Linked DNA regions of Homo sapiens: regions 1, 3 and 4 are each reported to be linked to region 2. The links are microRNA targets in miRTarBase. Many come from high-throughput screens and were not tested one by one. Region 2 holds a microRNA gene; each other region holds the end of a gene's coding sequence. Distances are between the middles of the regions.
Evidence for each region. The annotated mature microRNA hsa-miR-6739-5p reads UGGGAAAGAGAAAGAACAAGUA and lies in region 2 at 2,218-2,239, opposite strand. An mRNA with a match to its seed (bases 2 to 7 or 8) in the 3' UTR can be bound and repressed. Matches are read on the target gene's strand: a 7mer-m8 pairs with bases 2 to 8, a 7mer-A1 pairs with bases 2 to 7 and ends in A, and an 8mer does both.

Region 1: the mRNA of SESN3 is a reported target of hsa-miR-6739-5p. Seed matches in the 3' UTR shown: 7mer-m8 at 1,522-1,528.
Region 3: miRTarBase lists ZFP91 as a target of hsa-miR-6739-5p. Seed matches in the 3' UTR shown: 7mer-A1 at 829-835 and 7mer-m8 at 84-90.
Region 4: the mRNA of RNF187 is a reported target of hsa-miR-6739-5p. Seed matches in the 3' UTR shown: 7mer-m8 at 1,334-1,340.

What each region holds. Positions count from the first base shown.
Region 1 is chr11:95,170,603-95,173,727 of GRCh38, forward strand. It overlaps SESN3 (sestrin 3), which reads right to left. Exons shown (of 10, transcript NM_144665.4): 10 at 1-2,739. The coding sequence ends at 2,653. Among named protein-coding and RNA genes, the nearest start is that of LNCRNA-IUR, 22 kb to the left of the region's middle.
Region 2 is chr1:201,862,492-201,865,616 of GRCh38, reverse strand. It overlaps MIR6739 (microRNA 6739), which reads right to left and starts at 2,244; the gene lies at 2,170-2,244. IPO9 (importin 9) reads right to left here. Exons shown (of 24, transcript NM_018085.5): 14 at 2,010-2,169.
Region 3 is chr11:58,617,259-58,620,383 of GRCh38, reverse strand. It overlaps ZFP91 (ZFP91 zinc finger protein, atypical E3 ubiquitin ligase), which reads right to left. Exons shown (of 11, transcript NM_053023.5): 11 at 1-3,125. The coding sequence ends at 2,678. It overlaps ZFP91-CNTF (ZFP91-CNTF readthrough (NMD candidate)), which reads right to left. Exons shown (of 13, transcript NR_024091.1): 11 at 2,816-3,125. Among named protein-coding and RNA genes, the nearest start is that of CNTF, 3.8 kb to the left of the region's middle.
Region 4 is chr1:228,493,325-228,496,449 of GRCh38, forward strand. RNF187 (ring finger protein 187) reads left to right here. Exons shown (of 4, transcript NM_001010858.3): 4 at 559-2,864. The coding sequence ends at 561. Among named protein-coding and RNA genes, the nearest start is that of RNF187, 7.5 kb to the left of the region's middle. RefSeq lists an enhancer at 1-495.

The DNA.
Region 1 (3,125 bases), not on the chromosome of region 2:
AAAAATACCACCCTGGAAAACCGCATCAGAATTTCAAGTTTGCATTGGATAAAGAGAGTTAACAGCAAACTCGTTGTAAAATGGTATTCACAACCTGAAATGCTGTGCATGCTGCGTATTAGTAGGTGCTTTAGCACCTGCAGAAGTCAATTTTTCTAGGCTGGTTCACTGAGGTTCATAAATATATGGTGTTGTTTTTGTTTATAGTTCCAAGTCAACTTATTTTCCTATTGATAAGATAGATCAATGCTGAGCTAAAAAGAAACTTTGCAAGGAAAGAGATCTATTAAAGGCACTAATATTTCCATAGCCTAAACTCCAACTACTTACATTTCCAGGGAAAAAAATAAACACAAACTAAGTGGCCATTTTAGTTACTTAAACCTTGTTTCCCCTTTTGGTCTAAAGCTCATATGGTGTTCTGTGAGAATTTCTCCTCCTTTTCAATACATACAAATCATTTTTTATCCTGTTATACAGTTCGCCTGCACAAAAATATAGGGCTATTAATTGAAAGCATCTAGTAAAAAAACAAATTCAAGAATAAATGACATCCTCAACTTGAAAGTTGTGAAGTTAGGTAAGTCAAATGGACATTTATGTTGCCATTTGTGTTTTGCCATTCTCCTAAATATTTTCTTTGTATTACATATCTACATAATGTAATATTGAATAAAAGTTAACATATGGCATATGCAATAAAACAGACGAGATATGGCACAAGTTCTCTGAATAATCTCTTTAAATAAACCACCCTGTCTTTAAAAATATTAGTAATTTTTTCCTCACATGGAAGATTTCAAACAGGATCCTGGAATCCAAAAATGCAGAACTACCTTATGTTAATAAGTATACAGTCATATTTGTTTTCCTATCTGGAACAAAATCTAAAAGAAAGCAACCCAATATATTGTACCAGAGGAGGATGATAAATGGAAGAGGAAAATGATTTCATGAAACACTAGTTCACGATTCTTTCACAAAAGAAAAGTTAAATCTTATATCACAAGTAAGTCTAAAATGAAATATTTGCGGGAACTCTAACAGAAAATTTTATCTATATTATTTACTATGAAAAATGGATAAGTTTTCAAAAATTAGCATGTATGTGTACAATTCAAGTCACCCTTAACTAACCAAAAAGTGTTTAAAAAGCAGTGCAGTTGTGTCCTACTGGATAGTTGTAAGCATCTCTTTAGGCACTTCACTGGTTCATTGACATAATACAAATTAAAGCTATAAACACATAATGTGCTCTCTGAAGATAGTCTAATCAAGCAACGTAAACCAATGCAAAAATGTGACTTTTTGGCCGCTTATTCCTCCCCTATGACTTAATAACGTTTTTAAACCAGTTGTCCAAGGAGATTTTTCTGGGGAAGGGAATGCTTTGGCATTATGAAAGGAACATTGTTCAATCCCAGAAAGGTAAAACTGAAAAAAGCCTGTGCAATAAAGAAATTTGAAAAAAATTTCTTTATGGCTCTGTTTAAAAGGACACTTTTGCAGTGATATGACAGGGGGAAAGTTTAGTTGAGTATTTTTTGAACATATTGCACTCTGTTTTTGTAGTTCAATCACATTAATGCATAGAAACACAATTTTTACCTTTGAAAAATAAACTGTCTAACCTATTATAAGAACAAAAGTCATGGAAAATAATTTCTAAAAGCCTAACAGGAAAAATAGGCATATTAACCTTCCTTTGCTTAACGAAATATAGAAAAAAACTATGAGAAAGGAAAAATGTGCAAAGAAAATTTTTGGTCAGTCTTGTGTGGGTACAGGTTTATATGTGCCAACTAAATGAACTGTAAGCAGCACTGTGAGCACTGATTATTTAAGGTGACTGAGGATTACTGTCAGTGATAGGATTGTGTTATAATTCCACTTATATACATCTGATATGGAAAACTGAAACTTCCATTTTAGAAGAGAAAGAAAATAGCTGAATTTGGCATTTCAGTAGCATGCTATAGAATTCATCATGATTAATTTCACATTAAATTATGGGCAATAGCTGTATCACATTTCATGTTATCGCCAATAGCAGTAAAACAACAATAAATGAACAAACAAACAAATAAAAAACAGTGCCTGACAAATAATCTCCTGGGGACACAAATATGTGTCCAGTGAGCAGCTTGGTTCAACAGCGCATGCTTTTCCTCCACCAGATTTAGGACACAACATTAAAGTTTTAGAATGGCCAGAGAGGTCACTCTTTGCTGAATTCCAATATCTGAAAAACAATTGCTTGAGCAGATTGTAAGCACTTGTCCTTATTCTTAAAAAAAAAAGGGCGGGGTGGGGGGAGAAAAAATACACATACACACAACCCAAAGGCGCTGAAGTTAAGCATTAATACGCCAGATTCATGATTTATGATCAGTATCCAAAACTCCAACTACAAACAATGCAAAGTAGTGCTCCTCAGTATTATTTTTGCAATTGTTAGTAATGTTAAGCATCAAGGAAAATAAAACACATCATTGCACATTACAGCCGCAAAAAACAAAAAAAAAAAAACAAACGGCTAAACTTTGACACTAGAGAACTGAATAATTTTTGATGCTATATCACAAATAGCTTCAATGTTTATCTTATGTGAAAGGTCTTTACACATGTATGACATTTTCCTTGGGTGATACTTCAGGTCAAATGCCGAGTTATGGCACGAAGAGCATAAAGAAGTTCAGCTTGCATTCGTGCTTCCATTAAAAGTAGATTGACATGAACCTAGAAGTGAAAATGTTATCAGTTTAGTAACCATTATAAACACCTGGAAAATCTTATTAGACATTCACAAAGGTTTTTTTATGTGTATATAAGCAATATACACACACACACACACCTAGGCATATTTATCCATGTTCATGATGCAACACTCAAACCTGTGTCTAATGGCTCTGCAAGCAGTAAAAATAACCCATAAAATCTAAAAAATTCTGATAACTTTATTAAAGTTGTTATTTTTGTAAAGTCAATCTGTTGGGTTATAAAATAAAACTAATTTTTATAAATTATAATTTTCCTACAAATTACATTTCTTTCTAGTTATAAAATTTTACATGGCTAAAAATCAGCCCTCATTTTTTTTTTTAACAGTTTATGCTTATCCTGTG
Region 2 (3,125 bases):
CTATGACATGAAGGAATAAATTAAAACTGGGGCTAAAGAAAAAAAGAAAAGCAACGGTGGAATGCTGATCATTAAAAGGTTACTAGTGACATTAGAAAAGACAGCTGCAGGCCGGGCGCGGTGGCTCATGTCTGTAATCCCAGCACTTTGGGAGGTGGGGGCGAGCGGATCACCCGAGGTCAGGAGTTTGAAACCAGCCTGACCAACATGGAAAAACCCTGTCTCTACTAAAAATACAAAATTAGCTGGGTGTGGTGGCACATGCCTGTAATCCCAGCTGCTGGGGAGGCTGAAGCAGGAGAATTGCTTGAACCCAGGAGGCAGAGGTTGTGGTGAGCCGAGATCGCGCCACTGCACTCCAGCCTGGGCGACAGACAGCAAGACTCCGTCTCAGAAAAGAAAAAAAAAAAAAAAAAAGAAAAATAGTTCCAATAGTGTGACACGGACATAAGCCAGTCTGCAATTGGCTGGTAAACTAAATAGGAAATGACCAAAGGGAAACTCTTGACTGAAAGAAAGATAGCTAATGATCCATTCATAGGACAGTTCTTAATCGGGATCCACAGATAGGCTTCAAGGAATCCAGTGTTTGACAATGAATATAAAATTTTGTAAACATATATGAGTGTCCATTTCTCTGGCCCACATATCCACAGCTTTTGTCATCCTACAGAGATATCTGTTACATCTCTCAAGAAAACTATTAAACCACTACCCATGTGGTCCAAGAGATATGAACATTAAAAATAAAAGTTTTCTTCACAGTTCTTCTGATTATAAAAGTAATATAAACTTGTTGAAACAAACAAACAAACAAAATATTTTATATATATAACAGAGAATGAAAGTTCTTTGTACTCTAATCTCCCCCAGAGAGAATCAATGTTGGTAAGTATGCCTGATAGGTACTGCTGTCTACCTAAAACACTCTGGAAAGTAATGGGCTTATTTTACCCAAAGTACTTTCACATTCATACCAAACTCCTCTCACAGCTTGCAGCTGCAAACATTTCCATAAAATCACAACACAAAGTGGATAATTCTCCAATGAAATCAAGTTTCACTAAGGTCAGAAGCTAAACAGGCAGTGACCACAGGTACAAACTCAGAAAAACCCTTAAAATAACATTCATGCCTTAAGCAGCTTAGGGCTCTCTCTTCTCAGACATTTAAAATGGTGTTAGAGCTTTCTGAAAAAGCTATACTTAGTTTGCCTCTTAAGATGATACTTCTAATTATTTTAGAGCCAAAGATCTGCTTCACCTAGATTGAAGCAGAAAAAGATGGGACGGTGTTTATGGTCATAACATTAACCATTTAATTAAAACAGGCAGTTCTTGAATGCTTTCTAATGACATATAACACACGGCATCTCAAAAGATACTCCTCTGCCTCAAAAGATAAGACAGGGCAGGCACATGGAAAATAAATTTTGTGTTGGTAGTTATAGGATTCAGTTGAGATGTTTAAGTTTGAGCCTAAGATATTCCTTAAAACAACAATGGTCCTTCTAGTCTGCGTAGGAATATAAATAAATGACTTTTGATCCATTAGTAACACTAGCCTTAAAAAAGATAGGTAAAACTGGGAAAAAATAAGCAGTGTTTCTAGGTCACATTATCCCAGATTTGGTTTCTAATATAATCAACCAACAAAATGATGTGGACTCTAATCCTGCTTCTATCATTCATCAATTGTGCAACCCTGTGCAAAACATTTTTCTCTCCAAACCTCAGGTTCTTCACCATTGAGAGAAAGGGAGTTGCCTAGATGATTCCAGAACTGGAGCGAATTTAAAGAGGAAGAGGAGCAGAAAGGAACAGGACATCTTCTGGACTCACAAAAGCCATGTCTCTAGCATGGTTTCTTTCCCTGTCCTTCCAACATTCACCCTGAAGGATATCATTAGCAGGGATTTCCAAGCAACATAATACACTGGAAAACTGTGATTTGTTATATCTAACCTGAGCAACTTTCCCTTAATTATCACGCTAGGGTAGCATACTCACCCCCAGATGGCTCTCACTGCAGAAATTCGAACTGATGGGGGCTGTGTCTCGTGAAGACCACTAACTGTTGCCTGTAGGAACTGCTGGATCAGTTCAGGGGACATAGCAACAGTGAACCGACTGGCAGCCCAAAGTGCCCGGCCCAAGAGGAAAGGAGACACTGGGAGAAAGACAGAACAATTAGGGGCTGGAAAATGAAAATTCCTTTTACTTGTTCTTTCTCTTTCCCACATTCATTCCTCAATTTTTTTTTTTTGAGATGGAGTCTCACTCTGTCACCCAGGATGGAGTGCGATGGCGTGATCTCGGCTCACTGCAACCTCCGTCCCCCGGGTTCAAGCAACTGTCCTGCCTCAGCCTCCTGAGTAGTTGGGATCACAGGCGCCTGCCACCATGCCCGGCTAATTTTTTGTATTTTTAGTAGAGATGGCGTTTTGCCATGTTGGCCAGGCTGGTCTCAAACTCTGGACCTCAAGTGATCTGTCTGCCTCGGCCTCCCAAAGTGCTGGGATTACAGGCATGAGCCACCGCATCCGGCCCTCCATTCCTCAATTTTTTAGAAGTAAATAGATGCTACATAATATGTACAACTCATTTGAGAGAAAAAGCATAACCTTGTATGATGAAAGCAAATGTGTGACCTGTGGTACAAAATCAATTTCCCAGTTTTCCCTTGTCTCTTCTGAGCAAAGTAGATCTTGAATATTATTAGACTAAAAAGACTTTACCACCCCAGTCCTCACCCCCAGCTCTCATTATTCCTTACCTGTACTACTAGTTAATCTTTTTTTTTTTTTTTTTGAGATGAAGTTTCATTCTTGTTGCCCAGGCTGGAGTGCAACAGTGCGATCTCGGCTCACCACAACCTCCACCTCCCTGGTTCAAGTGATTCTCCTGCCTCAGCCTCCCCAGTAGCTGGGATTACAGGCATGCACCACCACGCCCAGCTAATTTTGTATTTTTAGTAGAGATGGGCTTTCTCCATGTTGGTCAGGCTGGTCTCAAACTCCTGACCTTAGGTGATCTGCCTGCCTTGGCCTCCAAAAGTGCTGGGATTACAGGTGTGAGCCATGGTACCCGCCCACTTAATCTTCTAAGTTGCCATCTCCATTGCTA
Region 3 (3,125 bases), not on the chromosome of region 2:
CAGAATTTGACTAAGAGCATGAAATGTAGAACTTTAAGATTAAAAGAGCTCCCTGGAAGGACAATGAGGCATATGGAGCAGAAGGGAAAGCAGGGAAACGGCTGAGATAGTTTAATTACACCAACTCTACTATGCAGCATCCCTTTATCAAAAGGAAAAATATAAAGTCTATAAAAAATATTTTAGTATTGCAAACTGCTGCAATAATTTATTGTAGGCAAATGGTAGCTATAAAGAGGGTCCTTGACCCCTAAAAGAAAAGAAAAAGTACAGCAAGTTTCTAATTAGTAGAACTAACTAGTTGTTTTTTTGTTGGGAGAGCGGTATAGGAAAGGAGAATACATTTTCTCCCATCTCAGAAAGATTTTTAAAAATGCAGTTTGCTTTTGTGTAGGTGGCTAAAATATCTGATGACTAACCACTGCAAATGAAATTTACGGAGACAAAGGATAAGTGTGACAAAAAAGCTAAGTGTGGAATATAGATGCTAGTTAGTCAAAAAGTGTAAAAGGGACCTGAGAGGAGGACAACTTTTTTGTAGATTCATCTAATCAATCTTGTATTTTCAAATCTAGTCAATATACCAAAGTCGACTCCAAACCATGTTGGCAGGAAAGCATATTCTACATCCCTTCTATCTTTATTCCATTTTCTATCCCCATATTATGGAGAAATGGCAAATCTGCAACACTCTGAAAAGAAACAATAGCGCATTTGAGACTGGTGATTGTAGGTGTCTCACTCTCTGTTCCCTGGCATCCCAAATGCTGACACTAGTTGGTATAAAGTAAGCCTCTTTCAGAAATGACATTTTGTTACTCCTCTTTTTGGGAAAAAAGAATTCTTTGAAAAAATTGATAAGCCATGTTTGTGAAACACAAACTGTTCTTTTTTTTTTTTCCAGCAAAACGTCATTCTTTCCAAGAGCCATCATGCATTTCTGACAATAAACAATGAATAGGGTAAGCCTTCGATTCTAGCTTCTGAGGCACACAGGATAGGAATTACTCTTTACCTGAAGATGAGCCAAAATAGGATTTGGGGCTTCTGGCGGTATGACCTTGTACAAAAACACTACCTTTTCTCTCCAGTGAACAGCAATAAGCAATCTATTCCCCAACACAACCTCTATCCCAAGGAAATTGTGATGCCCAGAATTTTAGGTGAAAGCCAAAGCAATTATTATATAGGATTATTAACTTTGGCTATTGAAGTTTTTCCTCTTCAGAAGTGTTACTAAAGGGGAAACAGAGCAGTTTTCTTTGACTTAAAATTTTAGGACTCATAGACTTTGTTCCTTCACTAACAGCAGTGTCCTTCACTAACAGGGAGCTGGAATGAACTGATAAAGCAAAGCAAGAAACAAAAAGCAAGGAGCCAGAGATGGGCCCCAAGGGAAATGTAAGGAAATGGTAGGGACAAAAAAAAAGGAAAAGAAACAAATTCACAAGAAACAATCATCTATCTGTAATTTAGATTCTGAACAACCCTCCTCACCCTCTCAAAATTCTTAAGTTTCAACACTGTAAAAATCTCAAAGAGCATACTAGTTACCATGAACCTAACATTCTTCCCTAAAAAGGCTTCCAAAAAAGCACTAGGCTATTGTAGTGATTTTGTTAGTGCTGAGGACCAGCTTTCTTTAAAAGCCACTGGAGAGCTATGATTTCAGAGGCTGGCTGTGCTTCTTCAACCCTATGTCTTGCCTTCAAAGTACCTGTTATGGAAGGGATCCCATGTCAAAATAATCTAATCTCTCTCTCCCAGCCCCACAAAATATAGCAACAAAGACTCCAAAAAAAAAAAATCAGACTTCCTGTTAATAAATAAGGAATCTCAGGTTCCACAACACAAAAACACACATGTTCAAAGTGCAAATTTCTGCCATTAGCCTGGGACTTTTCTCATCGTCTCACTGATACAGAGCCCTGTCTTACAGTCAAAGAGACTGTAGAGGGCAGCCCCCTCCCTATTGGGAGCCTGCTTCCAAGCAAGTGAGCACCATTGAGAGCCATATGGAGGGTTGGGAGGGGGACTGAGATGCTGGGATCAAAGAAGGGGGAGGTGGTCCCCATATATCCTTCCTTTCTGAAACCCAGGGGGGAATAAAGGAAGAGGGGATGAGAGATGTGTGCTGTTTTAACAGCTCACCCTGCTAAGGGGCCCTAAAGTGCCAAGTCAAGCTGCCAGCCTCCAGAGATTAGAATTCTATGGTATTTGAAGATAAGTGTGCCGCAGGGGGTAGGAGCCAGAACCATAGGGCAGCAGTAGAGGAGGAGAAGGGATTTAGAAGACAGTAATATATGATTAAAAGTTAAAAGCTGATCCAGAGCACATCAGAGTTACAGGTTGGAAAGGGGGATCTGCCGATGAGCAGGAAGTCTGCTGATGGCTGGAACCGAGTATGAGAATAACCCTCACTTTAAGAGCTGCTGCTGCTTCTTTTTTGTCTACCTTTCTGGTAAAGACAACATCAATTTTATAAGGGGAGCAACAGAGGGAGAACAGGGGATGGGGAGGTGGAGGGTGTATGTATGTGTGTGCTGTGATCCACAATGGAAAGAGCAGGCCCTTCAGTTATTTCACTAGATTTTAAATGCTTTAGATTTTTTTTTTGTCCTTTTTAACTTTTAAATACAAAGTCTGAGCTGTCCCATGCCCCAAGTCTTCCTGTCCACTAAGGTCCGGCAGAGTCTGAATCTTCAATCAGAACCTCTGTGGTAGCACCGAGTATATCTGAGTTCATAACCAGCCCTTCAGTGCCTCCACTGCTGCCGCTTCCCACAAAGATCTTCCCATCAGCCATCAGGCTCACCCGTTCCGTCCCACTGCAGTATGACTTTGACATCCCTTCAGCTTCTAACAGTAGGCACTCTCCAGAGGTTGAGTTTCCCAAGGGCTCAGGAAGAAGAGGAAGACCCTGACCATCTGAAGGCTGCGTCAGGGACTCTGGGTTAGTGCCCAAGATATCTGTGCTGGTGATGAGGGCGCCTGCATTGGCAGCCAGAGCTTCTGCAATCAGCACCTCAGGGTGGCTTTTTGCCTTGTGTGCCACTACGCTGTCCTTCTTCTCAAATTTTTTGCCACAGATATTGCAAGAAAACTGGTAGAAGGAGTCTGCATCA
Region 4 (3,125 bases), 27 Mb from region 2:
GCAGCAGCGAGCCATTGGGGGACCATTGCCCGAAGTCAAGGCTTAAAAGCCCAGCCTGACTCCCACTGCCGTGGCCTTGCAGGGCTGAATTTCGGGAATGGGTGGGTGGTCAGGGAAGGTGATGGGAAGGGGTTTTAAGTTGAGGAGGGTCTGAGGTGTCCCTGACCTTCACAAAGGAGGGCACTTGGCATCCCGAGTGCCCGAGCATGGAAGGCTCCTGCCTCGCCCTGGGGTCCTGAAGGCAGAAGCAGCCAAGAAACCCAACCTCAGGGCTTTTCTTCTGCCTCTGCCCAGGGCCTGGCCTGAACCCCAGACCCTGCAGCAACCCAGATGGCCCTGAACGGTTCAGTTGCCCGTGCCAGCCATAGGTGACAAGGCTTTGGCCCTGGGGAGACGGAAGTCTGGGCCAGGCCCTGGGTTTGTTGTGCTCAGGACAGTACCTCATGCGCTGTCTCATGTGCGCTCTCTCTTTCGCTCTCTCCTTTTGCCTCTGTCTCTGACTCTGTGTGTCTCTTTCTCTTTTTGTCTCTCTGTCTTTCCCTCTCCCCTCCCATGCAGTGATGGCGCCAACCCGTGGCAGTCCCAGAGCTGGAGGCAGGAGGATGGATCCTCATCTCCATGGGAAGTGTCAGCGTGTGGCTGCCAGGGAAGCGTGGCAGGCGCCTGGCCTTGGGTCCATCTACATAGTTGCGTGTTTCAACAATGTCCATTTATCCTTCACCCCGAGGCGTGTTTTGGGGGCTGCAAACACCTCCCGGTAGAGGCTGGACCTGAGGACCCTTCCCACCTGTGCCCGTCCCTTCCTGAAGTCCTAGCCACAGCCCATCCTCCATGAGTCCCGGCAGCTCTGGGTCATGCCCTTCCCTGGTCACCCATCTGCCCCTCACCTCGTCATCCAGGGACCCAGACCCTGCACCTTCCATGTGGGCCCACAGATCCTTGGCAGGTACCTGAGGTGCACCATTGAGTGTCGGATTTGGGGTTAGCATCCAGAAAGAAGAATGCGCATGACGCTCTGTGAAGGCTGGAACTCAGGTCTTCAGGGAGAGAAAGGAAGACTGGATTGCACCTTGATGCCTCCTGAGGAGGCGGCCCCCCTCTTGAGGTGGGCGTGGGCCCGGCCCAGCCTTATCCAAGTCGCTCTGTCCACCTCCCCCTTCCTGGCCCCCACCCCACTCCTGTGCCTCCCAGGAGCCCTCCCTGTGCTCCACCTGCCTCCGCAGAAGGAAGCCTCTTTCTCTGTTTCCCTGGGTGAGGGGGCTGGCAGGTGGCTAACCCCATTTAGCATCTCCAGGCCCTGCCATCGTGTCTCATCTTGCTGTTATCTCTAGCTCTTTCCCTCCTCCCATTTCCTTTAGTAGTTGAATTTTGCAAAGCTTGTAGCAGTAGCTCAGTTGCCTGCAGCATCCTTGTGTGTAGATAAATTAGTCGACAGAAACTCAGCACTGGGGACAGGATTGCAAAGTCGGGGACATAGATGCAGACAGTTGTTGAGATTTGGGGATAGCCGGGCTTGTGAGCGGTGCCCATTTCCAGATGAAGCCTTTCAGCCCTTCTGAGTCCCCGGCCCTTGGTGCGATGTCTGTGAGTTTGACCTGCCCAGCGTGTGGGCTGGCTCAATGCTGAATAAAGTGGGTTTGTGTCAGCTCGTTTGCTTCGTCTCCGTGTGTCCACCTGGCCTCTTCCCCCTGCCCTGGCCACCCTCCAGTGTCAAAGGAAACTTCCTCGTGACACGTGCTAAAGCATGGTGAGGAGGACTTTGATTGGGACCATTGAGATGGGTGTGGGACCCTTTCCTTGGGGCCTGGGGGGAGATGGGGCTCCACCCCGACGTAGCAGGGCAGGGGTTGGAGGAGCGAGGAGCAGTATAGGGTCCATGGGTGGGAATGACTGTGAGGAGACATCAGGGCTGAGGGGGCTCTGGCTAAACCCACCTCACAGAGTCCTTGCTGCAGGCAGGCAGGGCGATCAGACATTGGCTGCAAACGGTCAGAGAGGAACCCAGTCAGGTACCATTGAGGGTGGTCAGATATTATGGTTAACCAAATTAGGGTTCTTGCTAAAACTGGATTTCATAAGAAAGGGCAAAGAGGGCCCTAGGAGAAGATTCCAGAGCCTGGCCAGAGTTTGGCCAAGTAGAGAATCTTTGTCAGCACGCCAACAACATCCCGACCCTGAGACCTCCAGTTTGTCTTTCTCACTGTCTCCGCCTGCTGCAGTCTGCTGTCATCCCTGAGCATCCCTGCCCCTGCCCTGCACACCTGTGATGCTTGCCCGGACAGGTCCTGATGGCAGAGTCTCCCACAACATCAGTGTCTCCACATCACCAGGTCCGACAGTGGCTTCACCATCCTCACCTAACCTAGCTGACCAGCAACATCCCACCCTGTCAATCACAACCTCTTTCTATTTAAGAAAATTATATATTTATGGGGCACAGTGTGATGTTTTGATATCTATGTACATTGTGGAGTGACAGATTAATGTATCCATCTCATGTTTTTTTTGGTGGTGAGAATATTTGAAATCTACACTCAGCAATTTCAAATACAGTCATCCCTCTGTGCCTAAGGGGGATTGGTTCCAGGACCCCCTCATGGATACCAAAATCTGCAGATACTCAAGTACCCTGCAGTCAGCCCTCCCTCTGCACATATGTGGGACAGTCAGATACAGAGGGCCAACTGCGTACAGTACACGGTTATCAGCTGAAGTCACCATGCTGTGCAATAGACCTTGAGTTTATTCTTGTATAGCAGGGACTCTGTACCCTCTGACTAGAATTTCCCCAAATCCTCTTGTCTCAGCCCCTGCTAACCACCGTTCTACTCTCTAATTCTATAAATCAACATTTTGATTCCACATATAAGTGAGATCATGTGATATTTGTCCTGTTCCTGGCTTATTTCACTTAATATAAATGTCCTGTAAATTCACCCATGTTGCAAATGGCAGGGTTTCCTTTTTTATGGCCAAATAGTATTCCATGATGTGTATACACCACATTTTCTTAAGCCATTTATCCACTTTATCCCTTTATCACTTTGCTTCTAGACCACGTAGGTTGATTCCGTATCTTGACTGTTGTAAAAGTGCTCTTAAGAAACACAGGAGTGTGGGTATCT